6 separate regions of the Homo sapiens genome follow, and regions 2, 3, 4, 5 and 6 are each linked to region 1. Evidence: fine-mapped expression QTL. A gene starts in region 1. Each other region holds a variant in brackets. All regions are shown on one strand. Distances are from middle to middle.

Region 1 (5,073 bases):
CTGGTCAGGTTAACCTTTCTAGGCCTCAGTTGTCTCATCTGTAAAACAAGGCTAATAATAGTATCTGGTTTAGAGGATTGCTGTGAGGATTACGTTGTAAATGCGGGTGAAGCACTGAGAATGGTGTCTGGCCATAATAAGCACACAGTAAACATTAGCTCTTGTTATTACAAAGAATGTAAATAAGAGTTGAAGACTATAAAGCACTCCGCACATTTCATTAGCAATGGGGTCACCATTCGTAGACAAGTCTCAGCTCAGCTTTGCAGCTTACCGTCACAGAGGCAGGGAACAGAGCTAGCTTGTCAAGGGTCTTCTCAGGAGGAAGTGGGGAGGTAGCCCATGAAGCAAAGTGATGGGGAGGGAAAGAGGGGGACATAAAGATCCTGCAGAGAAGTTGGCTCCGAGTGATAGGAGGGTGTGGGGAAGAAAGAAGGGGGCAGTAAGGATTCTCATTATAGGACTGGCCGGGAATGGTGTGACCACTGATTCAGGAAGTGGGGAAGACGGGAAGAGACTTCAAGTGTGGGGGGAGCCAATTCAGATAGGAGGTGGCCTAGACAAGGTGAGGGCATCTCAAAGCGACACCAAGCCTGGGTGAGATCACGTCTGGAGCCACAGAAGGATGAAGCAGTTTATATTTAAATGCCATGGCAAAACAACATCCCCACCATTACACCCTCCATTCTCATTCAAGTTCTTCGGGAGAAAGGAAAAATATGGTCGGGTTCATTGCTATTCAGTTTTGAAGTTGAGCCTGCATTTGGACACAGGCGCTTGGGAGAGTGGGTCATTTTCTTTGACACAATTATTAAGGAAACCGTTTTAAATGATTCCTTGAGTCCCCCAATGGCCCAGGTGGAAGGTGCTGTTTCCTGGTACCTGTCCAGCCCTCTGAGCTTTTCTCTCAGCTTCCAAACGCTGCAGTTGAGAACTAGCAGATCCTATTGGTAGTGCCCTGTGGCCCACACTCCTTGGTAACGGTGAGAGTGGGGAGTAATTAGGAGCGGCTGCCATGGGCCAGGCATTCAGGTCAAGGCCGAGGATGGTGGCCAGGGCCACAGAGCCAGGGGACGGGTGGGGACCCAGCAGGCCTGCGGCTGGCCGCTTGCTGAGCGCTCCAGCAGCGGGGCCCTGGGCGGATGAAGGGCCGGAGAAGGCCCTCTGCTGGGGCCGCGGCGATCTTGCAGCGCCTGGACACCGAGGCTGGGGCACTAACGGTCCGTGGGGCTCCCGACGTATTCCTCTAACTTCCCCTTTCTGTCCTTTCGGTCTGGGGCCTTTTCAACACCCCCTGTGGCCGGGGACAGCTGGGGCAGAAACCGGCAGGCGGCAGAAGCCTCAAGCAGCTCTGACCTCTGGCACCTCCCCAAGACCCAGAGCACAACATCTGTCCCCAGAAATCCCCGGGCGGAGAAGAGCGCGCGCCAAGCCCTTCCTGGGTACTCAGTATTCTCCCTTCCTGGGAACAGCCTGCCCTCTGAGGCCTGGGCACCCGGGTTCCCGAGCGCCGGGTCCCAGCCCCGCGGGGGCGCCTCCGCACCCCATCTCCGCGCCCGGCGCAGAGCCGCCAGTCTCCGCCGCGGGGCCCCGTGCCCCGCAGCGCCACCTAGGGGCCGGGCGCCGCCTCCCGCCCTCAGGGGCACCCCCCTTACTCCGCAAGGACTCCGGGTCTCCCCAGTTCTCCCGGCAGCCGGACCCTCCCAGCCTCGGCCGCCGGGCCGCCCTCCGCATCCCAAGCCCGCCTCCCGTGCCTCCCCGGGGGCGCACCGGCAGCGAGGAGCGGCTCGGCGAGGGCGCGCAGCGGCGGCCCAGGCCCAGGCCTTGGGGCTGGGGCTGAGGGGGTGAGAGCAGGCGCGGCCGGCGGGCAAGGGGAACCGGGCGATGGCAGCGGCGGGCGGCCGCGGGAGGCGAGGCAGCGGCGGCGGCGGGCGGCGCGACGAGCCCCTGTGATTGGCACAGCCGGAGCCGGAGGAGGAGGCCAGGGGAGGGCGGAGGCGGGGGAGGAGGAGGAGGAAGGGGCGATCGCGGCGGCGGCGGCGGCGGCGAGGAGCTGTGCCTTCCACCTCTCCAGCCCCGGCAGGACGGGGGCGGCCGCCGCGAACCCGGGGCGGGGACAGCACGCAGCCTCGAGGCGCGCACCCCCGCCCGGCAGCGGCCCCGACACCCGGGGCGAGCGGGAAAGCGGCAGCGGCGGCGGCGGCGGCGGCGGCGGGGGAAGGATGCAGGGGAAGAAGCCGGGCGGTTCGTCGGGCGGCGGCCGGAGCGGCGAGCTGCAGGGGGACGAGGCGCAGAGGAACAAGAAAAAGAAAAAGAAGGTGTCCTGCTTTTCCAACATCAAGATCTTCCTGGTGTCCGAGTGCGCCCTGATGCTGGCGCAGGGCACGGTGGGCGCCTACCTGGTGAGTCCCCGAGCCAACTCCGCCGCGGGCCCCTTCCCCAGCCCGGCTCTCGAGCGGCCGCCTGGCCCGACGAGGGGGCCGCCCGGCGCTGGGGGCAGGCGGGCATGACCTCGGCCCGGCGTGGAGGTTGGCGAGTGGTGCAGAGGCGGCCGCCGGGGGAGCTGCCGGCCGGGGCTGCCAGCGAGCGGGTAGCGGGCGGGACCGTTGATGCCGGTAGCAGCTCGCGCGCGTCCGGCTGGGGCAGGGGGTGCCGGGGGAGGAGAGGCGGCGGGCAGGTGGGCGTGAAACTATTCCTCTCCCCCCATAAGAGCGGAGCGAGACGGTGAGTTCAGGGTTCTCCTTGGAGAGGAACGAAAAAGCGTCGGGGTTTTCAGGTGACCTGCACATGGGAAGAAAAACCAGTTAGCATCCTGCGTCCTCTACTCTCCATTGCATCCTCCTCGAGAACAAATCTATTATGCATCATTTTCTCCGGGCGCTTTCTACATCCGCCAATTACAGGGGGATATAACAGCTTAGAGTGAAATGCGCCCTAGTGTGGCCCTGGCCTGAGCCGGGGCTGCAGGGGGAATATTGCCACCCGGTATCCCTATAGCCCTCTTTGAGCGTCTGGGATAAAGTTACGGTACCTAGAGAGCAGCTGCGAGTTTGTGTAGTTCCTGCTATCCACTCTTAGTGCTAAATTCCCCATCGTGGTCTGTCGCCTACAGAAGGTTGCACCATTTTCCACAATGAATATGTATTTTATTTGCCTCCAGAAAGGGGATGTTAATGCTCAGAGGGCCCATGGGTGCGTAACATTTCAGAGGAAACAGCTTGTAATGACTCAGCACTGTCAGGTACCTACTTTGTCGCTTTCGCCTCCTCTGCTCAGGTGGTCGCAACTTGAGTTCCAGAGAGCGTGCTTCCACACCTAAGTACAGTCCTGTCTAAACGGGAAATTTTTTTTGAGAGTTTATAGTGTTAAATCATTACTTGGCTATTGACCCGCAACTGGAATCAAATGTCATAGACTTTGAGTATTCCTGAGCAAGTTTGATGGAGATAGAATTGGACAAGATTTTGGCCATTGAATAACCACATCCAGAGATAGAACCACGCGTATCCTGATGCTATGATTAATCCCTCATTCCTGGCCTTGGGGTAAAGTTCATGAGGGCCAGACGCTGGGGGCTGTATACCATTCATAAACTATCTCTTAAGGCTCAGGGCTCACTGTTAAAGGGAAATACAAGCAGTGCTTGGTCTCCGGTGTTGAGGAAGTTAGGTGGTTGTGAGAGAGGGGGTCTTCAAACTCAGCTCTGTTCCTGGGGTGACAGAATTTCAGGGCTTTTGAAAATCAAATACATTTCTGTTGCTCATTCTGAGACGAAAAGCGTTTACATCCCGGTCTCTGTCTTGTGCATTCGTAACTTGTAGACTGCAAGTGAACCCTGTAGTCAAAAGCATACCTTGTTTTCTGTTCTATAAAATACACTTATTGTGTCTATAGTTATAATATGCAGTTGCAGACAGTACCTATTAGCCCTTGGAATTTGAGGGATAGGGGATAATTGTGTTTTGGGAGTCAGTTTATCGGCACTTCCTTAGGGGAAATTTAACTGTTAAAATATTTAAATAAGTACATGTATTACAGAGATGCAAATTCACATTAATAAAATATATGTGGGTCTGTACTGTGACATATGCAAAGTACATAATACCTAACCGGGTCTATGTTTAGAAGGAGGTAATTAGTATATCAACAGCTGCCTCCACTTTAACGGTTTGTTTGCCTCAAACCAATTTTGCTCGGTAGAGTGCATTATTCATGTGTGGCAAACACCCGCAGAACTTTTCACCCCAGGAGTGATAAAAGCGTGGGCTTACTATTTTTCGGTTGCAGTGATCTAAGGATTTGACAAATAAATGAAGCTGGGCTGCAACTAGATGAATGGCCTAGCTCCTTTAGAAAGTTAAGAAGCCGAGTACTCCTGGAGTGGTGGACTTCTGGAGGCAGGGCTGGCCCCAGGAGATAGGAGGTTGACTTTAATCCCAGAACAGGGGAATGGCAAGCAGAGGAGGAATTCGGTCCACCTGGTGGCGGCATCCTGGCACTTCTAGCCTTCGCTGATGGAAAGCCTGGTTGGGTGGGGTAGGGTAACAGGAGTCAACAGGTGACTTGCAGAAAGCAGCTGGAGGCCCAGGAGAGGACAGGCCTAGGAAATTGAATTCATTTTGATTACTAGGAGTGGAGGCATAAGGCTCTAAGGGCTCTGCTTTGCCCGGCTGCCCTCGTCTTTGCCTTGCCATCGGAGCCTCATGAAAATAAATAGTTGGCTTGTCAGGGTTGACTGACGCAGCTTGCTATGGGCTTTGCTCTTCTGGGCCACTTCAGAGTTTTCTCTTCATCTGTTATTTGGGAGATGGGGAAAAAAAGTTTGCTCCTTCAGCCATGCGAGACTTCTCTGTGGATAATTGGAGAATGAAATATTGCAGGCTGTTTGCAGGAAAGGCACATTTCTTCCTTTTAATTCATCATGGCTTTCTTAGGAAACCTGAGACCTTGTGTCTGTAGGGGACCACAGGGCAGGGTCCACGTGCTAAGTGTGCGTTATACGTGATCCTTACCTTGGCAATCAGCCTGCCTCTCTAATGAGGCATTTCCAGATACTTGAGGAAGGACTTGCCT
Region 2 (5,073 bases), 380 kb before region 1:
GAAGTCTTCCATTATAACTGTGGCTTCATTCTTTTCCTTCAGGTCTATTGGTTTTTGCTTCACTTAGCTTGAGGCTTTGTTGTTAAGTGCATATACATTTAGGATTATTAGGAGTTCTTGATGAATTGACTCTTTTACCATTATGTTATGTTCTGTTTATCCCTGGTAATTTTCCTTGTTCTGAAATCTACTTCATCTGATATTAATGTAGACACTCCACTTTTCTTTTGATTAATGTACACATTTTATATCTTAGTCCTTCCTTTCACTTTTAACCCACCTATATAAAAAGGGTTTCTTAAAGGGAGTACCTGTATATATTTGGGTTTATTTTTAATCATTCTGACATTTTAAATCTATTATTTGTTATGTTTAGACCATCTAATTTGGGGAACATGGTTATAATAGCTGCTTTGAAGTCTGTTAACTCTAACTTTTATGTAACCTTAGAGTTGGTGTCTGTTAATTATATTTTTTATTGTGATGAGATATTCCTGATTATTTGTATGCCAATTAATTTTGGATTATATTCTGGACATGATGAGACCCTGGGTCTTATTTAAATGCTAAAGAGAATGTTAACTTTGTAATTCTTGTTGCTGTTGTTTTGGCATGCAATCACCCTGATTACATTTGGTCTGCAAATTCTGACCTGCCTTCTCTGAGTCTGGCATAATTCCATTTTCAAAGTATTTTCACTGTTGCTGAGAACAGTCCCAGTGGCTAGTCTGTGGCCCCGTAGCTCAATTCTCAAAGCCTGTGATATGCTGATAAGGTTCAGATTGACAAATGCACAGGTAGGAGGCGCACTCAGGAGTTCATACACAACTTTATGGCGTCACGCTCTTGATCCCTGTCCTCTCTGTGATTTCACCAATGTACACTTATTCCCTGCGTCCTCTCTTCTCAGTTCTCTGGCTAGAAATCTAGAGTTCTATTTTCCCCAATATCATGCAAACTTACTGCAACTGTGCCTACGTCTAGGACCAAGTGACAGGAGGAGACAGAGGCAAAACACATATAGCAATGTGTATCCACTGAAAATTCAAAGGACCACAGTTCTTTTTGATAAGGGAGAAGAGTTCCCTTTCCTCAGAGTTTTAGGTGCACGACTGCTGTCATTGCTGTCAATGCTGCTGCCAGTGCCACTGGAGTGTTGCTTGGGCATCGCTGTGGGAGACAAGAACAAGAGAAGTCTTCTCCCTGTGGCCTTTCTGTCCACACTTGGTGTGGATTTCTGGGCTTCAGGATGCCTTTGATTTCAGGATGGATGATACTGAAGGGAAAAAATGGTAAACTCACCACTGGTTCAGGCAGACTTCAAAGTCTGTTCTCTTTCTCCATCCACCTGTTATCATCCATGTGTTACAGTCATCAGATAGTTCTTTCTTGCATTCTATTCAAGCATTATAGGTGCGTTCAGTGAGAGAGACAGGGTGGTGTGTCTTGAATCCATCTTCTCTACAACCACAACCATAGCTTGCATTTTAAAGATTTTTTTGTAATAAGTACAAAATGAATGCCTTTTCATTGTAGATAATACAAAATATGCAGATAAGAAGAAAGTAAAAATCACCCATAATACTAACATTTCCGCATCACTTCTGTTGATTTGTGTTTTAAGCAAAATTAGATCATGTAGTCCATGTGGCTTTGTATTTTTTTTTTTCTTTTCACTTAGTGGACTTATTTTCATGGTAATATACATTCTTCTCCAAGATCACTTTTCAAAATTGCACAAAAAAGGCAAACATCCCTTCATATGGATGTACCCTAATTTTTTTTTTTTTTTTTTTTTTTTGAGACGGAGTCTCGCTTTGTTGCCCAGGCTGGAGTGCAGTGGCGCGATCTCGGCTTACTGCAGTCTCCGCCTCCCGGGTTCACGCCATTCTCCTGCCTCAGCCTCTGGAGTAGCTGGGACTACAGGCGCCCGCCACCACGCCCGGCTAATTTTTTTTTGTATTTTTAGTAGAGACGGGGTTTCACTGTGTTAGCCAGGATGGTCTCGATCTCCTGACCACGTGATCCGCCCACCTCGGCCTCCCAAAGTGCTGGGATTACAGGTGTGAGCCACCGCGCCCGGCTGGGATGTACCCTAATTTTTTAAAACCAAGTTCTTGTCATTGAACATCCAAGTTGCACAGCTTTTATACTGGTTGCAACCAAGGGGTAAGTAGCTGAAGAAGTCGCAACAGGAGTTAAACTCTCTTAAATACTCTTTAGGCCCCATTCGAATTTTTAAAACAAAAATATGCTATTTTACAACCCCGCCCTAACCGCAGTTAGAAAAATTTATCCTCTGGAAACTACTATAAAGTGCAATGGCCGTGATTCTCAGAAAACTGGTTAGATAGGACCCATGCTTCAACACAGGAACTGACATCTAAGCACAGAAGTTGGATGCCTGAAAGAAAAGCAGACAGTGTTGTGTCCTTAAAAATAAATGCATTGCCATTATTTTTATGTGTCTCTGTGCCTCAGCCCCTGCCGCACACGATAAAGATGCAACTGTGTCTGTACTATAGCGATAAGACGCCATGGGGAAGTGCTTGCAGAGGCTGTGTTTTTTTTTTTTAAAAAAGCCACAAAGAACTCCTTAATTAAGTCTTCCTTTCACCCTTATTAAAATTCGGTGAAGATTACCATGGAATTTGTCCTCTATCTCACAAACAAATCATAACAATTTCATAAGACTTCCTCAGGCTGCCTGGAGTATAGCTTATTGTTTCACTAGTGTTTTATAAATAGAAAAATGTATATGAAATCCTCCAGCACACCCTTAGAAAGGACTTAGCTCAGCCTGTCTGTCGTGATGACACTGTCAGAGAACTGGCTGGAAGCTGGTGACTTAATAATGCAAACTAAGGCTTAAAGAATACACACACATACACACATATGTACCTAAGTGTTTGTGTGTGTGTGTGTGGATGTATGTGCTCATATGACAATAACCTCATATATGGTATTCCGCTAGATGGCAACTTGAAATCATCTCAGTTGTTTTAAGGCTTATAGAAAACTCCAAGAATACATTGTAGAATAAGCTATGATATCTAAGCATAAAACAATGGGGAAAAATAAGAAACTTTAAAATAAGAATTGAAGGTCTCACAAAAAATACGAAACACTCTATAACATTAATGC[A/G]TGCAAAACCTGATGTTCTGGAAATAAACAGGCCTAGAGTTGAGGTTTGAGTATAATACACACGATCATCATAATAACTAACATTCAAGGAGCACTTAGTGTGGACTGAACTCTTTGCTAACCACTTTCTCTTTCATGCCTTTAACAGTTTAAGATTACTCTATTATTTTTACAGCAAAGACACAGAGGCTTTTAGCACTATTGCATGACAAGTCCCAAATCCCACCCATGTTAAGTTCTGGGTTCAGGATATGAACCTGGGCCTCCCTGACCTCCGGGCCTTATTTTCAACCACCTTTCCTTTTCTTAGCTTCCTTGTTCTTGGCTCAGAATTCCCCCTGCCTCTATGTTTATTTGGTCTCACATCAGTTTTGGTGTTTGGATTTCATTACAGTTATGCCTTATTTGGAGAGCATCTTTTAAGGAGTGACAATATTTTTTTAAAAAGGTAATTTTTTAAAAAATTTTCTTCCAATAGATATTGGGACAGTTTCAGCAAGTAAAACAGCTCTGCATAGGTGATAGGGCTAAAGGAAAATGTTTTCTATGACAAGTGTTTGTTATCTTTACCTCTTCTCTGCACAATGAAGAGAATCCTGCTTGGACCTCAAGCCAGGGGCCCTCTGCAGCTGCCACCTTAGATGCTGGGCCTCACAGTCTGGTGTCTGGACTCTGGCTGCAGTAACTGGAGCAATGGGGAGGTAAAGACAAAACTGGAAATGTGAGGGTGAGCGTTGCTTTGGAAAGAACAGAAATTATCTGTGGGGAAAAACAATAAAGATGGGAAGAAAGCTGCAAGAGGCCAAAAACAAGGCACTGGTGGGCTGGGGGGGGATTTGGGGAGATCATGGGAAAAGGGGTGGGGAAACCTTGGGGTCACTGAGCCAGGAGACAAAGATGGGGAGGAAGAGGCAAGGGGAAGAGAGTAGTGAGAGGCACTGCTGTGGTTATTCATTGCATCCCCTTTCAGATTCACCTGAAAATGGGAGACATGTCTGGCCATGTGTTAATATTTTTCATGGCTGGTCTGCGAGAGTGACTCCAGTCCAAGCCTGGGCTGCACGGGCCCCTGTTCTAAGTGGTCATTCAAGCTACTTTTTAAATATGTGTTTTCATTTGTACAGTTTTTTAGTTTCATTTGAGATTGTTATCTCTTTTATTGGATTCTAAAATCTTAGTTGTCAGCATAAACTCTCCCACGGGGAGCCCTGTAGTCTTAATGAACGGAAATTTCTGTGTAAGCAGGAGACAGAAGGCATGGGTGAGATTAATACTATAGGGATCATGCTTTATGTTTTACATGCTTTTCTTGAAAGTAGAGTGGTTACCTAAAATGATTTCTAGAACATTGCTGGTATACAGTATATTTAAAATTAATAAAAGTAAACAGCTGTACTGAAATGGAATAATTATCACATGCAACAGAATTGGCAAACTCCCTAATATATTTTATGCTAATTGTTGATCAGCTACTATGTACCAGGCATCAGGCTTCATGCCTACAATTCAATGATCAATTTATGAAACAGTTTCTGCTCTTAGGCTCACAGTCTGGTGGTGTAACAACCAGCATGCAGCTCGGCTTACTTGGTCCTAAAATAACTGTGCACAGCACAGTTTATCCTGGTCTATGGTGAGGGTTCCACTCCTAATAAACTCCACAACTGTGACATTTATAACAAAAGTTTTGGTAAAGAACAAGGGTTGGGATGCAGTTGCAGACTTGCAAATACAAATGACTTTTCCCAAAGGAATTTCAGTATGAAAAGAGGTCTTGCAGCCATAACTCCAGCATTACAAACCTAAGCACCATCAAGCAAATACAACCTTTGCAAATTTGCCATCAAGAAAATAAACCCTAAGGGCCTGAAAGAAGGCCCATCGCAATCTGGTCCTTTCCTACCATTGAAACAATGCCTTGTTTCTTAC
Region 3 (5,073 bases), 63 kb after region 1:
TTTTTTTGGAAGCAAGGTCTCGCTCTGTTGCCCAAACTGGAGTGCAGTGGTGTGATCTCAGCTCACTGCAACCGCCGCCTCCAGGGTTCAAGCAATTCTCCTGCCTCAGCCTTCCCTGAGTAGCTGGGATTATAGGTATGCACCACCACGCCTCGCTAAATTGTGTATTTTTAGTAGAGAAGGGGTTTTGCCATGTTGGCCAGGCTGGTCTCGAACTCCTGGCCTCAAGTGACCTGCCCACCTCGGCCTCCCAAAGTGTTGGGATTACAGGTGTGAGCCACTGCTCCCGGCCCCAGCTATTTTCTCTTCCATGATGAAATCATGCCACCTATCTTTGGCTCATGCTGTTCCTTTTGCCTGAAATGTTCTTCCCTACTCAGCGAGGACATCATTCAGCTGTCAGATCTCCCATGACAAGGACTCTTGTCTTGCTCACAGCACCCTGCGTGGAATTTGCACACAGCAGCAGAGGGTAGCCATCTCATTTTCTTACCACTTTAAGAAGCCCTGTAAGAATGCATCTCCTCATGGCCCCCTTGGTGTGAGGTCTGCATCACACATCTCACCTCCAGTCCCTTTGTGTTATTCTTAGGTACATGTTTACCTTCTTGCTAGATGGCTTCTTCAGGCCAGATGTCCTCTCTCCATCACTTTTCTCTTGTGTCTAGGGCATTGCCTGGCAAGCAGCAGATGTTCGGTATATGTTTAACAAACATAGGGCAGACAAGAATACAAAAAAACGGGGGAAATCATAATATTCAGTTGGAGGGTACTTGGCAGGGTCATAGTGCTTAGAACAGTCAGGGGTGTATTTACCTGATGGCCTCTGGGGAAATGTACACTGGAAATTTCCAGACGGAAGCAAAGAGCAAATGATTACCCCGCTGGGCTGATTTAGCTTGTGCATTTTGCCACTTGGGTTTTGTTAAGTTTGTTTTTATTTTGAGGTGGGGGATAGGCTTTGCTAACCTCCTGCGGAAAATCTCCTGGCTCCTCTGTCTTCCTGGCATGGACTTTATCCCTAGTATATATTTGGGAGTGTGTGCAAACCGCGCACTTCAGGACTTTTATAGGTTTTCATGGGCTGTCTGTGGTGGAGGTCTGTGGGGGTGGGGAATGCAGTGTTTCCGGAAGAGGGTAGAAGCTTTCAGGATGGAAACAGGTGCCAGAAAAAACATTGTTGCTACTGGGAAAGTGAATTCGTTAACTGAATTAGGGTTATGATACTAAATAAACGTCTTTCTGATTCGTCAGGTTAAAAGGCATTTACACAGCTGCCTTTTTGCACCTGGCACCGGAGGCCAGGTGGGAGGGTCCCGGGGGGGATGGGCAGAGCGCACTGTCAGGCGGGAAGGAGAGGCTTCCTGGGCATCTTCTTGGATTGGCTCTGACCTTTCTTCTTGCCCCCCTCAGGTGAGCGTCCTGACCACCCTGGAGCGTAGGTTCAACCTGCAGAGCGCTGACGTGGGTGTGATCGCTAGCAGCTTCGAGATCGGGAACCTGGCGCTCATCCTCTTCGTGAGCTACTTCGGGGCACGCGGGCACCGGCCGCGCCTGATCGGCTGCGGCGGCATCGTCATGGCGCTGGGCGCGCTGCTGTCGGCGCTGCCCGAGTTCCTGACCCACCAGTACAAGTACGAGGCGGGCGAGATCCGCTGGGGCGCCGAGGGCCGCGACGTCTGCGCAGCCAACGGCTCGGGCGGCGACGAGGGGCCCGACCCCGACCTCATCTGCCGCAACCGGACGGCTACCAACATGATGTACTTGCTGCTCATTGGGGCCCAGGTGCTCCTGGGCATCGGTGCTACCCCTGTGCAGCCCCTGGGCGTCTCCTACATCGACGACCACGTGCGGAGGAAGGACTCCTCGCTCTATATAGGTAGGAGCTGCCCCAGCCGTATTAGCAAGAGACCAGGGTGTGTTGACCATGGATAAAAGGTGGCCTGGTGGACTTTGATTTTGCCAGAGTACTGGTTCTCAGACTTGGCTGCACACCTAGTGTTCTTGAAAAATACTCATGCCTGGGGGTGCAACCTGGGCATTGAGACGTTTTTAAAAGTTCCCAGGTGATTCTTGTGAGCGGCC[G/A]AATTTGAGCTCCACGGGGCTAGACCACTAACACCGCTTCAGTGGGAAAACATGATCGGGAGGAGTTGTATGTTTATCTCTTCTTTTTGAGTGCGTATGTGGACTTTGGGCTTTCTGATATTAGCCACCAAGGTATACTTGGGGTCTACACATTGGAAACTCCAGCTTTGAAGAATCAGAATGATGTCCTGGTCATTGTCCTGTTGCAGCTCAAAAGGAGAGGTGATGGCTTTGCCAGCATTTGGCATCATTCGAAGTTGGTGACTTCCGGTAATTTTTTCAATAATGGAAGTATGCATGGGAATTGGGTATGTAGAGAGAAATAAGGTATTTGTGTTTTGAAAAGTTATTTTTCACGGTCAGAGTTTCTGATGTTTTATACTGGAAGGATGGAAACCACTTGTGCGTGGGGGTTAAGAATCATCTGAGTGGCAAGTTGTTTATTACGTGGCGGGCAGTGTTTTCAGTGGCTGCGGTGGGCTCTGTTGGATGGCAGCGTGCAAGGTGAGGGCTGGCCAGCCCCGCATCTCTATCCCTTGTTTACAAAGTATAATTCTGTCTCCTGCCAGCTGCTGGATTTTTCTGACATCCCCAGTCACTGAGTGCTAAGCTTTGAAAACATTACCTCTACCCAGGGAAGCTTTATGCCTCCCAAAAGCAATGTGCCTTGAGGTAGAAAGTTAATTATATTATGGAGTTTTAAGTGAAAATAGAATTTGAACTGGATTTGACATAAAGGTTCCTATCTGCCAGGCTTCAAGCTTGCTGAGATAGGATGGTTTGGAAGCAGGACACACCGAAATGCAGATTTTTCTCTGTGTCTTTCTGGCCCAGCTTTGGAGTAGACGCGTTTACTGAACACGGATGTTGCACGCGGATGTTCTGGCTGGCTGTGAGCAGGCTCTGGGCAGGAAAGATGGAAGGAATGCGCCTCTCCATTCAGAGGATGGAGCACCAGTGAGCCTAGTCACCAGCTACCTATGGAACAAAGGGGAAGAGAAAACGGCTCAGGCCAGAGATGGTTAGGGGTTTCCATTATTACCTGAGAGTGGTTATGGTGGAGGAAGGGAAACTAAGGTAATCATTTTTCTTTCATTGCCTTAAGTCTTGAGTGAAAGCCGCTCCACGTGAGTTTTTTGCACACCAGATCATGGACTACAGCATGTAGCCACAAAGGTCTCCTGAGGTCCACCCTCTGACTTGACTGATGTCACCCTAGGGCTCTGGGAGAGTTGTTTTCTGGTAGGAATAACAGGAAGTAGATCAATCAGAGCACAGGGAATGAAATGGGGAGTGAAAACCTGAATTGTTGTCTCTGCTGATAGAATCAAGTAGAAAAATTTCTCCCCAGAGTCACCCCTGAAGTCCTAACAGTGCTGTATCACTTCTGCCTGGGGCTTCCAGCCGTAGTCACTGAACCCTCTTCTGGAAGTGTCTCCTGATGAGTTAAGCTGTGCTGTTTCCCCACACTGGGTGAGGGTTGGTTTGAATGTGCCAAAAGCTTTATGGTGAGGAAGCACTTTGGTTTGGGACATGGGGGTGTGGGAGGTGGAGGCGTGGACAGTAGGGCTGATCATTTGAGGCAGAAGGCCTTCTTGAATTCTGAGGCCTTGTCTGTGGGATTTGCATTGAGTCTTTGGTAGGAAGAACTATTCAGCCAAATTTCTATTTGGTCACCCCATTCCTCTGTGATAAGTCTGAGTTGGGGGAGTGTCTCTTTGCATGACATACGAACATCTTGGTGGCTCTGTTACATATGGCCAGATTCCAAAACATCGTAGCCCATGCCATGGAGATGATAGTTCTGGGTTTCTCTGCACTGGTTTACATGGGTTTGTGTTTATCGGGATCAGGAGAGGACAAGTCTTTTGCATAGATTGGCCTCAATAGGGGGCCTTTTATTCCATATGTGGTTTATTCTCCAGGTATAATTTAAGATCATAGCATATGCAGAGTATAACTGGTTCATTTATTTATTGTATGAGCTATAAAAAAAGTGTTTGTGGTAGTGAGAATATTTCAGAGTTTATCTCCTCTAATATGGCACTAGTTCCTGAAGCCACTTAACTTTACTTCACAGTATTTGGGGTAGCCCACTGAACAGGATTGATATAAAATTCTGGCCTCTTAACTCCCTGAAGAGGAGGAAAGTCTCAAGGGACTGATGCTGGGACTGTAGGTGTAACTGTATATCCATCGGGGAGGAATAACATGTGTACCCCTGGTTCCAGCTCCTGCAGAGTTGGTCTAGAGAGGGGCCCACAACCAATTGTCTGGTCATATGCCTAAATCGTGACACTATAGTGGAGATTGAAAGGATTCTAAATATGGCATGTGTAAAACACCAGCTTGTTCTTGAGCTGAGCCTTCCCTTTGGGTGTCAGCAGGGAACAGAATGATCAACATGCACAGCTCAGGCTGCAGATCAGTGGTGATGACACCTGCCCCGGGTCACCCGCATTGTGGGTCACTAGATGGGTGCTGTTTGTACATCGGTGGCCGTGTCGTAGCTTCCACTACAACCCAGGGCAAAGTGAAGCATTCCATCTTGAATCAAGCCGATATTTTCCACTGAAATGACTTACTTGCTTTGGCCTCTTGTGGCTGAGCCGCTGCCAGATTCCTGGATTCCTGGATGGGCTATTCACAAGGGGCTCCTCTGGCTGGCACCATTCTTCAGCCCGTCCTTTCCAGTGTGGGAGGGAGCCAAGGGAGCTCATTACCAGGGGACAAAACTGGATGAATGGGGACTCGGCTCTGCTGGCAGGCTTTCACTGCGGCATCATGCGGCACCCGGACTCACAGTGCAGCCAGACGGTGACCCGTGGGTGGCACGTGGCACTCTTTGTTCCTAGAGTGACTACATGGGCGCAGTGGCAGTGGAGACCACTGGGCCCCTACTGAGGTCGGAGAATCCATTCTTTGGGAGTCTAGTCATGCCTCTAGCTCCATGTTGTGATCTTCCATTAGCCCAGTTTTCTTAGCTGT
Region 4 (5,073 bases), 94 kb after region 1:
GTGGACGCTGAGAGCAGGCCTCTTGTAATGCAAGTGCTGAGAAGACTTAGAGATAATTAGGGCAGCGTCTTCTCTGCGGAGAGGTTGAGCCACTCAGCTGGTGTCACCCAGCTGGTCAGTGGCAGGGAGCCAGGCTGCACGTCTTTGATTTTTAACCTACACTCTCACCAGTGAGATCAGCCCTGGGCAGCCTGTGAATCTGATCGTGTTACCTTCCATTGATTCCCAGATACCCTGTGTTCCAGGCAGTGCCAAGAACCAGTGAGGAGCACTCCGGGCCCTGGTAGACAGAAACATCCTTCAGAGTTTATGGCAAACAGGAGAGATTTGAAAGTGGCCAGTATGTAGGGAAATGGTTCAGTCAGTTATGTTATATGAAAATGATGGAATATTTCCCAAATATTAGGTAGTGGTCAGAAGAATATTCTGTAACTTTGGAATGCATGTGGTAGAGAACCAAGTGAAAAAATAGGACTTCGTAGTATGGGTTGAGTGTGCAATGCACTTAAGGAGAAGGACTTGGGAGGATTATACTGTTTCATTTTTCCTAAATATGTCTATGATGCAGTTACATGAAAAAGGAAGCATGCTGTCAGAACCCCCAGTTCCCAGTTTAGTTGTCATAATGCTTAAAGGCCAAGGGGTAAGAGCAAATGACTGGAGTTACCAAAATTCCCCTCCGAGGAAGGGCAGGTCGGCGTCCTTCTGCAAACATTCTTCTAGCCAACGGAACCTGCCATTGTGGAATGGCAAAGGTGGGGACCTGCCGTGCGTGCTGCTGGAAGAAGTTTATAATCAAATGTGTCCATGAGTCCAAGACAGGATGAGTCAATGGTGCTCACGGAGGACTCTTCCATCCCCAGTCATACCCCTTAAAGCAGCACAAAGCAAGCTCCTGTCATCGGGTCCCGAGTGACCACAGGATGTTATTTTGGCCTTTGGCCCTGTGTATTTCCTTCCCTGGCCTTGAGAGGGCTGTGGAGGGCAGATCAACAGGGCAAAGGAAGCTTCGCTCTTTGAAATATCCATGCTTGCCCCTTCTGGGACCTCCCTCCTGGGTGCACCTCTAATCATACGACCCCTCCTTGTCGAGGACCGTCTTTTCCGAGGCTCTGTGGCATATGGTGACGATGACATAGGAAAAGCAGCTTATCTTTGAAATTCAGCTTGTGAATTCCAATTCTGTGAAATTGTGGGAATCCTCAGGCCTTTCCCGAACAAGCTCCCGTGCTCTTGGTCTGGTTGCCGCTGGCAGAGTTAGTGTCTTTTAGCTTCTCACTCAGGTGGTGCTTTGTTGCCTGGACAAGCTATACTCCTTCTTCCCTTTTTTCTCTGCTCTGGAGTGTTTTTGTGGGGTGAGGAGAGCTCTTAAATCCTTCTAGGTCTTGAGATGATGACACTAGGAGCCTGGTCATTGTGGGCAGGAAGTAGACTATAGATAGGGCCGACAGATCGTTGCCTTCGGCCTTTGTCACTTGTTTAACCCACTTGAGTGTTTATTAAAAATGTGAGTTAGTTCCCGACATTCACTCTGGATCTAGGCTTCTCCTGGAGCAATAATAGCTGAAGCCAGAAGCGTCTGTGCAGCAGCTAGACGGGGCAGGTTGCTCCGATGGCCCCATTGCCCTCCCAGACTGCTTTCCTCGTTAGTACCCCCTGCTTGGCCCTAGCAGCCAGGTGACTTTGGGACCCTGGGTCGGTCTGTACACTGCAGAGTGCTGTCTTGGATCCTGGGGCTCTTATTGACACACAGCTGCTGGCAATTCCCCTTTGGCCCCCGTGCAGGTGACCGAAAGTGACTGCAGCCCAGTTAGCAGGGGCTTTTCCAGTTCCATGTGAGAATTGTTTATCCTCCCAACTAGGTGTTCCAGCAGGGCCGTGGGAGCAGAAGCAGAATTCAGATGACAGATAGACGAATGGAGATAAAATAGAGATTGACTTCTGCATTCCTTGCTCAGCTTTCCACACCCTAATAAAAGTCTGAGCCAGAAAGTGGGTGGAAGCCCTGGCCCTTTGTTACCTGCCCTTTGTTTCAGTGCCATGCGGCTAATGAATGCCGACCTCCGGGAAGCTTTTTCCACTCCTGCTTGGCGCATGAGAATACAACCAGCTGGTCCCTCCACAGTGGGCTCAAATGTGACCCTGCGTAGTGCTCCTGGGAGGTGCATTTGAGCTGTCCTAGAAGGGCTTCCAGAGCTCGAGCTGTTGCCAAGTTTAGAAGTGGCCGCATGTGTGGTGCCAGCCACAGCATCCTATTCCTGCAGATAAGCCTACAGGCTCTGTAGGAGTGCCGGCATGCACACAGCACCACCTGGGTGGAAAGCAGCAGTCATTGGTTAGGAATTTGGGGATTTTCTAATCTAAGTGTTCTCCCAAGGAAGTGCAAGTCAGGAGAGGGCCGAATGTGCACGAGACTCTGCAGGAAGGCTGAAAAACTTTCAAAACAGTACAGGCAATTAATCAGGGATGCCTGCATGGGCCACTCTCTGGTGCCCTGTGTTTACAGACATGAGGGCTGGGTTTTCCTGCCCTGAGAAGAGAGGGCCGTCCAAGGAATAGGAGAGCCATGGCACAGGAAGTGGAAAGTCAGTCTGGGATGTAAAGTTGGAAGTCAGGGTCCTTTGGGTCCTGTATCCTGACTAATGACCCCAAAGATATTCTGGGTGGCATGTGCCAGCCTCCTTGCCAAGTGTCTCAGAGCCTGCAGAGCACC[A/G]TCCATCCTCAATTCCTTTAATAACCTGAGGAACCTGTCATCCATTTAGGAATCAATACTTTGGTTTTTTTTTTTTTACTATTATTTCTGCTTACCTCACCTTTTGGGGGAATCATTCCCTCCATTTTTATCCCTGGTGTAAACTTCCCTGCCCTCTGGCAGATGTCATTGTTATCCTTGAGTATTTATGCAGTTCTGATGTCCTTACTGAGTGCTGACCCTCTGCATGCAGGTATCTAGGTGTGGTTGGGGTGGGTGCATCAAAAAGGCTAGACTGTGTGCAGCTGCTTCTGCACACAGATAACTCTGACACACACCCAAATTGGCATAGAGACTGGCGCTGGGGGGAAGGATGTGACCAATAGGACCAGACTGTCTACCTGGGTTCAAATCCTGGCTCCACCATTTCCTGGCTGCATGATCCGGCACTAGGTTTCTCATCTGTTAGTGGGGATAAGGGTAGTACCCATGCGGAGGGCAGTTGTGAGGAGTAAAAGAGTAACTATACTGTAATCCCAGCACTTTGGGAGGCTGAGACAGGCAAATCGCTTGAGGCCAGGAGTTTGAGACCAGCCTGGTCAACATGGCGAAACCCCATCCCTACTAAAAATATAAAAATTAGCCAAGCGTGGTGGTATGTACCTGTAATCCTAGCTACTCCGGAGGCTGAGGCACAAGACACACTTCAACCCGGGAGGTGGAGTTTGCAATGAGTTGAGATCGTGCCACTGCACTTCAGCCTGGGCGACAGAGTGAGACTCTGTCCCCCCAAAAGAAGAGTAACTGTAGGTGAATTGCCAGCGTGGTTCTGGGCAGCTGTGAAGCCCTATGAAAGTGTGTTGGTGGTTGCCTTTAATATAGAAGGCAGATGAGCTTGTAGTCCCAGCTACTTGGGAGGTCAAGGCAGGAGGATCGCTTGAGGCCTGGAGTTCAAGACCAGCCTGAACAATATAGTGAGACCCCGGCTTTAATAAATAAATAAATAAGCAAGCAAGCAAGCTGAGCGTGGTGCTGCACACCTGTGTTTCCAGCTACTCGGGAGGCTGAGGCAGGAGGATCACCTGAGCCTGGGAGATTGAGGTTGCAGTGAGCCCTCATGGTGCTACTGCACTCCAGCCTGAGCAACAGAACCAGACCCTGTCTCTAAAAAACAACAACGAAAAGAAGGCAGACTGTGATGGATTCTATACGGAAGAGATAAATGCCCTGCTGTGGAAATGTAGAGGAGGAAAAATTAGTCCTGACAAGGGAGGTTTTTAGGAGAAAGGCAGATTGAAGCTGCCCCTGGGGAAGAAAGTTGTAACAGGCAGAGGAAGCAGCTGGAATGAGGTAGGGAGGCCTGATGGTATGGAGTCTGCATGCTCAGGGCTGCCTGCTGTGGCCAGAGATTCGGGTGTGTGTATTGTGGAGGGGATTGCAGGGGGCTGGGGAAGCAGAGATCAGTCTGCAGTGGTGGGTGAAGACAGCCAGTCGTGTTGCACGTGGGACAGGGGCCCTGGCTGGGCAGGCAGGGGGAGCCCAGCCCTGTCACTGGCCATTGATCCCAGGCCTTGACCAAATGGGGTCTCTAATCCCCAAGGGTCCCGGTGGGTTATTAGGAAGGGCAGATGAGCCCCTGCAGGGGAACGTTGTGCAGTATGGCAGGCGCACCCCACATGGGTGTGTGATCCTTTGTTTTTTTGCTGCAGGCTCCATAATGTCATCCGGTCTTTCTAGCCTCCTAAGAATGAGGTTCCTAGTTCTTACCTAATTTCTCTTCAATTTCTCATGCACTGCATCTTCCCGCTGTTTATTTAATGTACATGTTGTCTGACTTCATTTGGTTCTGTATTTCACAACCAGTCTGATTGCTCTTGTCCCAAGTCATTGCTTTTTGGGGTGAGGGCTGATGTGTTGTTGAAAGTCTTTGGCAATGCTTAATTTTATGGTATGTGCAATGCTAATTCTGCCTTTAGTAATTTGATGACAGAGACTTCTTGGGAACCACAGCCAGGGAGCCACCCTTTACTCCACCAACAGGTGGCTTATATCCAATCTGAGAAAGAAAGAAAAAAAAAAAAGTATTTCTCTGGCTTTCACTTCATTTGACAGGTGAGCTGAAGCTATTGTGTGTATTCTCTTAGTAAAGTCAGTTCCCACAGTTCCCTGGGGGTGATGTGGCTTTGAGGTAAGAATGAGGTAACAGACTTAAATGTACATGATTTTATTGAGATAGAATTCACATACCACAAAATTCACCCTTTTAAATTGTAAAGTCCTGTGGTTTTTAGTATATTAACAAGGCAGTACAACCATCACCATTATCTAATTCTACAACATTTCATCATCCCCAGAAGAAACTCCATTAGCAATCCTCTCCC
Region 5 (5,073 bases), 310 kb after region 1:
GACTGCAGATGTGCACCAACATGTACCACAGTGCAAATTCCAGGTTGTCTCTTTAGTAGAGACGGGGTTTCACCATGTTGGCCAGGCTGGTCTCAAACTCCTGATCTCAGGTGATCCACCTGCTTCAGCCTCCCAAAGTGCTGGAATTACAGGTGTGAGCCACCATGCCAGACTGATGCTTTCTATGTGTAAAGTTAGTCTTCACAGCCATCTGGTGAAGACTGTAGTATTATCATCATCCCCATTTTGCAGATGAGGAAACTAAGGCAGGAGGGCTTAAATAACTTGCTCAGATTTGTACCATAATAAAAAGGCAGAACTGGGACACAAACTCATGCGCTTTGCCTCCTGAGCATGTCTTTGAGCCACGGAGTCAGACATATTTGCCTAGCAGTGCTATAAGAAAAGCTAGGCAGAGACAGGAACAGGGGAGCACTGGCCACCAGATCCAGAACCTTAACATTCTTTTCCCGGTAACAGGCTTCATCCCTCCACCCCTCATCTTCGGGGCTGGCATCGACTCCACCTGCCTGTTCTGGAGCACGTTCTGTGGGGAGCAAGGCGCCTGCGTCCTCTACGACAATGTGGTCTACCGATACCTGTATGTCAGCATCGCCATCGCGCTCAAATCCTTCGCCTTCATCCTGTACACCACCACGTGGCAGTGCCTGAGGAAAAACTATAAACGCTACATCAAAAACCACGAGGGCGGGCTGAGCACCAGTGAGTTCTTTGCCTCTACTCTGACCCTAGACAACCTGGGGAGGGACCCTGTGCCCGCAAACCAGACACATAGGACAAAGTTTATCTATAACCTGGAAGACCATGAGTGGTGTGAAAACATGGAGTCCGTTTTATAGTGACTAAAGGAGGGCTGAACTCTGTATTAGTAATCCAAGGGTCATTTTTTTCTTAAAAAAAGAAAAAAAGGTTCCAAAAAAAACCAAAACTCAGTACACACACACAGGCACAGATGCACACACACGCAGACAGACACACCGACTTTGTCCTTTTTCTCAGCATCAGAGCCAGACAGGATTCAGAATAAGGAGAGAATGACATCGTGCGGCAGGGTCCTGGAGGCCACTTGCGCGGCTGGGCCACAGAGTCTACTTTGAAGGCACCTCATGGTTTTCAGGATGCTGACAGCTGCAAGCAACAGGCACTGCCAAATTCAGGGAACAGTGGTGGCCAGCTTGGAGGATGGACATTTCTGGATACACATACACATACAAAACAGAAAACATTTTTTAAAAGAAGTTTCCTAAAATAAAAAAAATTAAAAAAAAAAAACCCACAAGTTGAAAACATTGCCAGATTAAGCACTAGTGACACACCCCGTGCCACCCTCTTCCTCCAGGTGGGGGTGGGGGCGGGCGCACAAGTCGGAGGGGTGGAAGCACCACTCCTCTCTCTGACTTTCGCAATATGGGTCACTGTGTAGACGACTCACCCAGTCTGCATGTGGTTCAAGGCCCCAGAGTTCTCTCAGTGATGCTAATGGGTGATCCGTGCTGGAGTTTGTAATTGGCACCTCTCACCAGCTCCATTTCCATGTTCAAGACTGAGGGCCTGAGGGGGAGCCAGGTGGGGGGCCAGCACCTCCCAGTGGCGGGCATCCACCTTCCCCCAGCCCCACAGAGTGACCTCAGGAAGCAGTAGGCCTCGCCTGGCTATGACTGACCCGGCTCAGAGCTGGTGAGACCCAACGCAGTCCAAGTCATTTGCTTACATTTGCCAAAAACATTTTGCCATTTTTAAAAGAAAAAAATACAATCCATATGAATTTCAAACTGTTGTATGTATAATCCTCTAATACTATTTTTAACTACTTCTAAAATCTGTGTTAACCCTTCAAGTCACTAACACAGTTCTCTAGGCCGGATTTATTATGCTGGTTGCTTTTACTTTTTTTCTCCTTTTTTAATGCACCAAAAATATGTGATACAAGGGATGCAATTAACCTATTGTAATTTTCATCATTTTATCCTCATTCGAATATTCTACAAAAACAAGAATATACAATGTGTTACAAGAAGAAAAAAAAATGCTTCAAAAAGAGAGTGTATATGCAGCCTGCCTTTAAAAGAATCACATTTGAGACAACAGGGGATAATGTGATGAATTGCAAATTTGCCTTTTAGCTTCCTTCCCCATGATTCAGTGATCACTGTCACGGGAAACCCTTTTATATTCATGCTTGACATTCCAAGAGGCGTTCTTTTCAGCCTGTGGAGGAGACACTCTTAGATGTGGGTTTGTGTGTATGGGTGCAACACTTCCGGGGATAGGAAAGAAGAACAGTTCCCTAACACAAGCTGTTAAGAAGTCTGTAGCATCTCTGATAACGAATAGACCCACAAGCTCCTGGAAGCTGTCGTGTGTCCAATGCGTGAAAATGTCTGTGACATTTTCAGTGTTAGTCTTGAACTAAGGCCCTTGTCTGTGTGTTTTGAAGGTGGGTGAACCTCAGAGAATGAACCTGTTATGATTTGGGGTAAGAATCACGTTGGAAAACCTCTCGCAACCAGCACACTAGGCCTTCTACGGCCATTTCTGTAAGGGGACAGAGCTTAGGTAAAGGCACACACTCATACACACACAACAAAGGGCCCTGCTAACTTACTCCTCATGCTGCTTCAGTGACCTTTGTTCATGTCACATTCCTGGCGCTGGAAAAAAAACTCAAAGGTTGATTGGTTTGCTTTTTCACCTTGGACACATTTGCATTTTACCCACAAGGCAAACAAAAGAATCAGGAAGTAAAAAATGGTTGGGAGTGGGACAGGTATGGTACCGAATTTTTAATGAACATTGTAAATGAAGAGGCTTGAATGACAGCCCAAATCTAGAGAAGGCACTCAGCAAGACCAACCAAAAGAAAAGCTGTGTCGTGGTATGGGGCCACCGTGATCAGCTACCTGGGGCAGGATGCTTCTGAGACAGGCCTTTCAACTGCTTAGTGTTAGTATGTCCTTGCTTATGAAAATGGGGACACTCATCAGTACGTTAACTACTAAAGGGGAGATGGTTCTCCAACCACT[T/C]CATAAAATATGTATGTTCTGTTGTTCCTAAGGCTTTGATAATATCCTGTACAGATTTTGGTTTAGTTTTGCAAATATATTGCTAATAGGTCACTCTTATAGATTATTGCTTGGCCCTTCAAACTCAGTACACACACACTGAGGCCCTTTGACCTAGTGTTTTATGGAACTATTTGCTTTGAGAGAAAAAAAAAAGAAAGTTTTTTAAACTCTTTGCATTTTGGATTTTTTTTCCTAAGATTTTAGGATGAATGTGAAAAAGATGTTAGAATAACAGGAAGACAACTCCAGGGCTGAGTTTTATCAGCAATTGGGTATAAATTTAAAGACCGCTGTTGCAGGATGGCTCTGAATTCTGTTGTGTCGTCTTTTAAAATTTTAATTATTCTCATATAGTACCGAACAGAAAACTCAGTCTAGTTTTAATTTGCCTTTTGTGCTCTAAAGAAGCATTGTACATACAACACTAGATCCAGCCCCTCGATTATCTGTTTGGTTTCAAGTGAATGAAAAGATTTCCTGGTAAGATCATTGGATTTACAGAATACAAAAATGTACGGGATGGAATAAACCTAGAAAGTGAATGCTAGAGTTCTCTCTCTTCTGCTACAAACTCCTACACCATCTCAGCTGAACATGCCCAGGGTGGATGAAAAGTCTCTCTCTGCTGAAATTGACAGATCTTTGTAACTCCTACGTAGAGACAAAGAAGGTTTGGGTTTTGTTTTGTTTTTTGTTTTGTTTTGTTTTGTTTTTCTACCAATATCATTCCCTCCTATGAAGTAAGCACATTTTGCAAAAATGCCTCTCTAGGGGACAGGGTTTGCTGTCTTCTCTCAGCTGAGGCTGTGTGCTCTCAGGGAACGCTGGCTCTGAGGCACCCTGGGGGACAGGGCTCCAGAAGGCCACAGCATGGCATGCGGGCTTTCCTCACAGCTAGCGAAGGAGTGGAAGCAGCCTCCTCTCACGGTCCCCCCGAGGAGCTTGCTAGGAACACTTAACAGGCAAAATAATAACTGGAAAGCCAGGAGCTCCTAAGGAATCATTTGACAGGGTTGCTAACGTCTTCCTAGCAGGAGGGAGCGTGCCCCTCCATAAAAATCACTTCCTTCTCACCATCTGATCATGGAATAACTCGCTCTAGTGCTGACTTTTAAAGATTGGTTGAGTGTCATCTGTACATTCCAGTCCCCCGATTCCACTGCCCTGTGTCCAGTAATTGCCCTCCAGCTTCCCCTCACTCACACTATGGCAGGGCTTCCCAGCCCTTACAGTCAAAAAGCCTGCAGAAACGTTCCACACAAGGGCAACCAGCTGGTCCCTGGGATGGTAGTCACACCACTCTTGAGGAATTTTCCCAGGAAAAAGATTCTCCTGTGGTTGCTAATGGATATTCTTTCACACCTTCCAGAGGAGGTCATTCACTGAGGAACATTTAAAATGGAGATAGATACATGTACTAAAATAGAAAAACCTCCAAGGAAAAGTAGTTTCTGGGTCCCCGTGTGCCTGCTGGGCTGGTTTTCTTGCCGCCTGCTGCTTCCGGTCCTAGGAAGTCTGGTTTCTTCTCCACCCAGCCATGCCTGCCAGACCTGTGCAGTCTGCTCTAAGCCCTGCTAGGAACTCCAAAGGCCCTACTCAGCAGTGGCAAGCTATGAAGGTCAGTGCATAGAGGTCAATGCATCTGATCATACAGTCAAGACCAGAAAAACAGGATGAGCTTCTGTTGCAGTTGGACGGAGTTACGCTATATTTTATTGTTGCTTGAATATTTTATTTGATTTGGTTTAGATGAGGGAAGAAACCATGCAGTTTTTTCAGTCTAACAGATGGAGAATACTTCCCGCTGCCTGGTGCTATTCTTACCTGACTATCTTGATGGCTTGGGAGAACCACATATCTGGCCAGAAGCCAGAGGAAAGTACCAGACACATGGCAGGGGCCTGCTGGCTCCACTGGGCTCACGCCATTCTCCTCTGATTGACCTCCTCTCAACCATGATCCATGTTTCCTTTTAGGGACCGTTCCC
Region 6 (5,073 bases), 170 kb after region 1:
AATTCAAGAAGCCAAGAAGCACTTAAGGATACAGGCTCAAAGGTAAGCCAAGCCAATCCCTCCTAAATTTTAAGTTCTTATTTTAAGGCTGTGGATGATACTTCATAGGGTTCTTGAGAGAAATGTATGGGGGACACCATAGGCACAAAAGCTAATTGCAGCAACAGCGATGACACTAATGCTGCTGCTCTTGCTGCTGCTGCTGCTACCACTACTACTACTGCTGCTGCTGCTACTGTGGCTAGCAAACATATCAGTGGCATCCACTTGTTGTTTTGGAGAATGCTAGGCTCTGGGCCAGGCACTTTCCATTCTTGCTTTCTGATTTGTGACAACTCTACAAGGCAGGTATATCCTATTCCACATGTGAGCAAACTGAGGCTGGACATGAGGCTATGATCAATTCTTTTCCTTCCCCAACCATTCCCGTAGCTGTCTCTATGAGTTTAGTGTTAAACTGGGATGATCTGGGACTCTCTTCTCAGTCAGCAAAGGCAGAAGGAAGTGTTTTGAATTCTCCCGGCCGTGAGTGGCTGCCATCTACCTTGCTGATGCCGCGTGATGCATGGCAGTAAGAGTTAATGTTTCCCAAGGGTCCTTTAGCAGTGGAGATGCTGGAAGAGTGGTACACGGGTTTCTAAGTTACTTAACAGATTTTATGAACTGCTAATTACCTTGTAAAGACATTTTATTGAGCTAGAGTGATCTGCTGTTGGCACTGATTGTTTACATATCTCAGTCCTTTGGCCTGTTTCTTTTGCCCCAGGTCAGCGCATCCCTGAGAGCTCTGCTCTGTGTGCAGCAGGGAGGCTTTGGTGCAGTTCTTTACCCTGCACGTGTCCAAGCCCGTGTCCATGCCCTTGTCCACCACCAGTCACCAAGTGTAGGGATGGGTCTCTGTTTCTCCATCCGGTAACTCCTTAACTGTCGTTAGGAAAGGCAAGCAGAGGAACTGCAGTCTTGGGTGTGACCTCCCAATTTGACTACTAGATTTGGCAAGAAACAAGAGCCTTGGCTTTCCTATCTGCAAAGTGAAGGAAAGAATGGAGAAGGCAGGTGTGTGTTCCTTGTCTAATGGACTGTTCCTCCACAGCCTATAAGAAGTTTCTCACTAAGGAGACAGAAGTGACGAGAGCAGGTGGTGGTATGTTTAACAAATACCTGAGAGCAAGTAGAACTCATCAGCTTCTGTTTTATTTTTATTTTTCCTACTGAGTAGAATGCCTTAAAATGGAAAGTGTGGGACAAACAGGTTTACAAAGCAGCTAGAGTCCACAGTAATTAAAAAGAAAAAAAATAGTCTAGGGGTCCCTAAGGGTTCTATGATTTCTGCTTTCCGTTTTCTTCAGAGAATTTGATGTGAGTTCATAGGTCTGTAACCAGTTATTTATTTTAAAAAGCTATGCAGGACAAGGAAAGAGACATGTACAAAGGAGGTGGCCATGACCGTCATGGTTTTCATTACACTGGTAAAGATGGATTCTGAAAACAATGGACAATTCATGAGAGAGTGTAACAACATTCCCACCAAATGTCTAGCATAGATTATGGCCGGGCACAGTGGCTCACACCTGTAATCCCAGCATTTTCGGAGGCCAAGGCAGGTGGATCACTTGAGGTCAGGAGTTCAAGACCAGCCTGGCCAACATGGTGAAACCCCATCTCTACTAAAAATACAATAAACTAGCTTGGTGTGGTGGTGCACGCCTGTAATCCCAGCTACTTGGGAGGCTGAGACAGGAGAATCACTTGAACCCAGGAGGTGGAGGTTGCAGTGAGCCAAGATCGTGCCATTGCACTTCAGCCTGGGTGACAGAGTGAGACTTTGTCTCCAAAAAAAAAAAAAAAGGGGGGGTACATTATTAAACAGATGGTGAGCTTTGATAGAAGATCTCTGGGAGTTGTCATGAGCTCTCTAAAAAGAAGCAAAGCCAAATAATGCATTACATTTTTGATAGGGTC[G/A]GTATTGTGACAATAAATGCTAAATACGTGATTTCCTGGAGATGTAGAACAAACGTTCTTTTAATATCCTTGTGAACTTTCTAAACAACACCACATTGCTTTATTTGTTGAGAGATAAACTTTGTGTAAGACACAGGCTAATGCCTTTACATACGTTGTCCCACATAAATCTCAAATTCACCATTTGACGAAGGTACCGTCATCGTTTTTTTCGATATTGTGGATGAGCAAATAGGCTCAGAGATTTAGCAACTTGCCCAAGGTCACACAGCCAGCAGCAGCAAAGAGGAGTCTCATCCTGGTTTCTCTGTCGTCTTCACCCGTGCTTTGGCCACAGCACCGCAGTGCTCTCTAAGGACTTCTGTAAGCTGCACAGTTTGCTCCCGACGCATGCATTAAAGGATTGACATTGGTCTGGAAAGACCCCTGGTGTGGAGTGCCACAAGACTGTGCCTTTTGCTTTGTGCCGTTCAACATTTTTATCCATGTCCCTAACGAAAACACAAAGACACACTTACCACATAAACGAAGCAGTTTGCACAGGCTGGAGGAATAGATCATGAAAACAGGACCGCGTAAAATAATCTGTCACACCCGTGGACAGAAACCTCGACTGCCATTGCAAAGTGCACAAGTCTGCAGCTTGGTTTTTAGTTTATTTTAGTTTTCAGGTAAGGCACGAATGTGCAAGAGGAAGCTTAGGAGCAGAGTTTGAGACAAGGATGTGGGCAGTTAAGAGCCTGCACTGACTCCTCTGATCACAGCGTTCGGCTCAATCTGCACAAACCATGTTGAGAATCTTCCCTAGAATTTCTGCCGAGACTTAGCAGTGGGCACAAAACCCATCACTCTGCTTATGTGCTGCTGTTTATACTGGGTGCCTCTGAGCACCATGTGGGAAACAAAGACCAGAGTCTCTTGTGGAGGAAGAGAGGGCAGCACACAGTGGGGGAGGCTGGTCGGTCGTATGTCAGGTGATGATGGTACCAGAATGGCTGGGGGCCTCCTGGGAATTTCCACAAGTCCGTTGAAGTCCCCAGCCAGGGGATGGTTGAGTCCAAATCCGAGGCCTCCAGGTTCCCATTAGCATCCTCGGGAAGCCACAGCACCAAAATCTGCCCCCCACCCTGGCCTTTGCTGACCCCAGGAATAGCTCCGGCTCCTGCCCCTCAACATTTGCAGGATGTTCGCCACCATGCTTCACTCAGCAAAAGTATTTTTTCTACAGATGTTTATTGAACGCCGACAGCACTAGACAGCCAGTGTTCTAGGCCCTGGGGATACATTTTTAATGAAATACAGAGAGAAAAGATGAGGAGAGAAAAGACACAAATTCCAGCCCTCAGATCTGAGAGACAGTCTAACCCAGAGCCCAGCCAATCCAATCAGGATTTGGGACCTAATGCAATATTCAGACAGCCCAAATATAATCGTTTTAAGCTAGAATGATCAGGACTTGGGTTTAAAAAGCAAAGTAGATTTTGTTCCACAATAAAATCACTGCTTCTGATTTTTGTGGAGAAGATGCTGCAATTAGGGGTTTTTCCATTAGATCCGAAGCCAAGTGGAGAATGCCAGAAGTTTGGCATTCCCAAGAATTTTTGTAGGATCTGGAAATGAGAGTGTTTTGCTTTTTGCTGGCGTATCAGTTAGGAGATCTTGACGTTCTTGTTTCAGCTGCAGGCACAAGTGTGTGTGTGTGTGTGTGTGTGTGTGTGTGTGTGTACGTACATGAGAAAACCCCTGACCCATGGTCAAACAACCCCCAAAACTGCCAGTTGATTAGAAAAATGTCCTGTTTCCTTCAGGCCCCAGAGGACATACATTTAAGTAAATACTTTAATTAAATTACATCCTGTTGCCAAGTAATTTCTTAAAAGAGAGGCGGTAAATGGAATCTCTTCTGGGAAAGTTTGCTATAATTACTGGATGGCTTTCTTGGGGAGGAAAATGTTTATTTAAAAACTCCGCAGCCTCTTATACTTCTATGCCAGGTCTCTGACCCTGGGGGAAAAAAAGGAAACTTGTTCACTTCCTGAGGTTGCCAAATTTAGGATTTGTCCCTGGCGATGGGAACAGCTATCAGGGATTGTTTTGCCTTCCCAGCCAGGCTCCTGCCCTGGAGTGGGCATGAGCGGCAGGACCCCTTTGCTCTGGGGATTAAAGATGTTTGCACTGGACCCAACCAGAGACTATTCCCAGGCTTGGTAGGTGTCCATATATAAACTCTCCGTTCCGCATCTTTTACCTACTTAAACGTAGTCAGTGCCTGGGCAAAGACTCATGTGAACATTTGTTTTTGAAAAATGTTTGTTTTCTCATAAAGAAATACATATTCTCTGTAGAAAATTTGGAAACACAATAAAGGCTAAGCAGGAAAATAAGAATCATTTTCCTACAACCCAGGGAAAAAGTACATTTTTGACTGTTTTTTTTCCCCTCCTTGTATTTTTTTTTTCCCAAACACATATATGTAGTCGCGCTGACACTGTGTAAATGAATTATTTCATAAGATTTTGTCAAAAGGAAAGGTGAATGGCCTCTGGCCCCAGGATCTGGGCTCCCAGTGCAGCTGAGGCCTGCTCACTTGGCTTCATACATTTTTAATAGAACTCTTCCGTCTCACGTTATGAGAGATAAAAGATCTATGATTCAATCAGGCACCTTCTTGGCTCAGGTGAAGAGTCTGTGAACCAAAAGGCCACAGGTCAATTACCTCGGAGCTGCTAAGAATTGCAGCCTGCCGGCTCAGTCTGGCTTCAACCGTTGCATTATTACTCTAATAAAATGTCCTCGGCTACATTTTCGTAACAGTTGGTGATAGGAGTCCCAAAGGGGATTGGGCATTTATCTTGAACACGGGCTCTGCCCACGTTCCTACCATAGCATAGCAAAGTTTGGCTTAAAATTGAATGCGATCCTCCTGTTGATTCTTTCTGTGTGTTTTATCCCACAAAATGCCCCAAAGGGTTAGTTGGTTTTCAAAAGCTACGTGTTAGACACAGTTTGGTCTTTTTTTACCCTCCTTTCATGGCCTTGAGATTATGAATTGATGCTTTTCTTAGATGAATACCAAGAGAAAAGAACTTTACAAAATAACAAAATTTCATC

Evidence for each region.
Region 2: its variant is fine-mapped to the expression of SLCO3A1 in whole blood (TOPMed, PIP above 0.99).
Region 3: its variant is fine-mapped to the expression of SLCO3A1 in whole blood (INTERVAL, PIP above 0.99).
Region 4: its variant is fine-mapped to the expression of SLCO3A1 in whole blood (INTERVAL, PIP 0.97).
Region 5: its variant is fine-mapped to the expression of SLCO3A1 in monocytes (Fairfax 2014, PIP 0.95).
Region 6: its variant is fine-mapped to the expression of SLCO3A1 in tibial artery (GTEx, PIP 0.93).

Annotation. Positions count from the first base shown.
Region 1 is chr15:91,851,687-91,856,759 of GRCh38, forward strand. SLCO3A1 (solute carrier organic anion transporter family member 3A1) reads left to right here and starts at 2,022. Exons shown (of 10, transcript NM_013272.4): 1 at 2,022-2,402. The coding sequence starts at 2,223. RefSeq lists silencers at 1,444-1,618, 1,487-1,626.
Region 2 is chr15:91,476,284-91,481,356 of GRCh38, forward strand. The region is part of intron 2 of CRAT37 (cervical cancer-associated transcript 37); the gene reads left to right. Among named protein-coding and RNA genes, the nearest start is that of CRAT37, 15 kb to the left of the region's middle. The variant A/G (reference allele first, on the strand shown) is at 3,145.
Region 3 is chr15:91,914,580-91,919,652 of GRCh38, forward strand. It overlaps SLCO3A1 (solute carrier organic anion transporter family member 3A1), which reads left to right. Exons shown (of 10, transcript NM_013272.4): 2 at 1,414-1,879. Among named protein-coding and RNA genes, the nearest start is that of SLCO3A1, 63 kb to the left of the region's middle. The variant G/A (reference allele first, on the strand shown) is at 2,086.
Region 4 is chr15:91,946,150-91,951,222 of GRCh38, forward strand. The region is part of intron 2 of SLCO3A1 (solute carrier organic anion transporter family member 3A1); the gene reads left to right. Among named protein-coding and RNA genes, the nearest start is that of SLCO3A1, 95 kb to the left of the region's middle. RefSeq lists an enhancer at 3,930-4,802. The variant A/G (reference allele first, on the strand shown) is at 2,714.
Region 5 is chr15:92,162,276-92,167,348 of GRCh38, forward strand. SLCO3A1 (solute carrier organic anion transporter family member 3A1) reads left to right here. Exons shown (of 10, transcript NM_013272.4): 10 at 481-3,628. The coding sequence ends at 860. Among named protein-coding and RNA genes, the nearest start is that of ST8SIA2, 230 kb to the right of the region's middle. RefSeq lists an enhancer at 2,364-3,121. The variant T/C (reference allele first, on the strand shown) is at 3,045.
Region 6 is chr15:92,025,258-92,030,330 of GRCh38, forward strand. All of the region lies in intron 2 of SLCO3A1 (solute carrier organic anion transporter family member 3A1), which reads left to right. Among named protein-coding and RNA genes, the nearest start is that of SLCO3A1, 170 kb to the left of the region's middle. The variant G/A (reference allele first, on the strand shown) is at 1,963.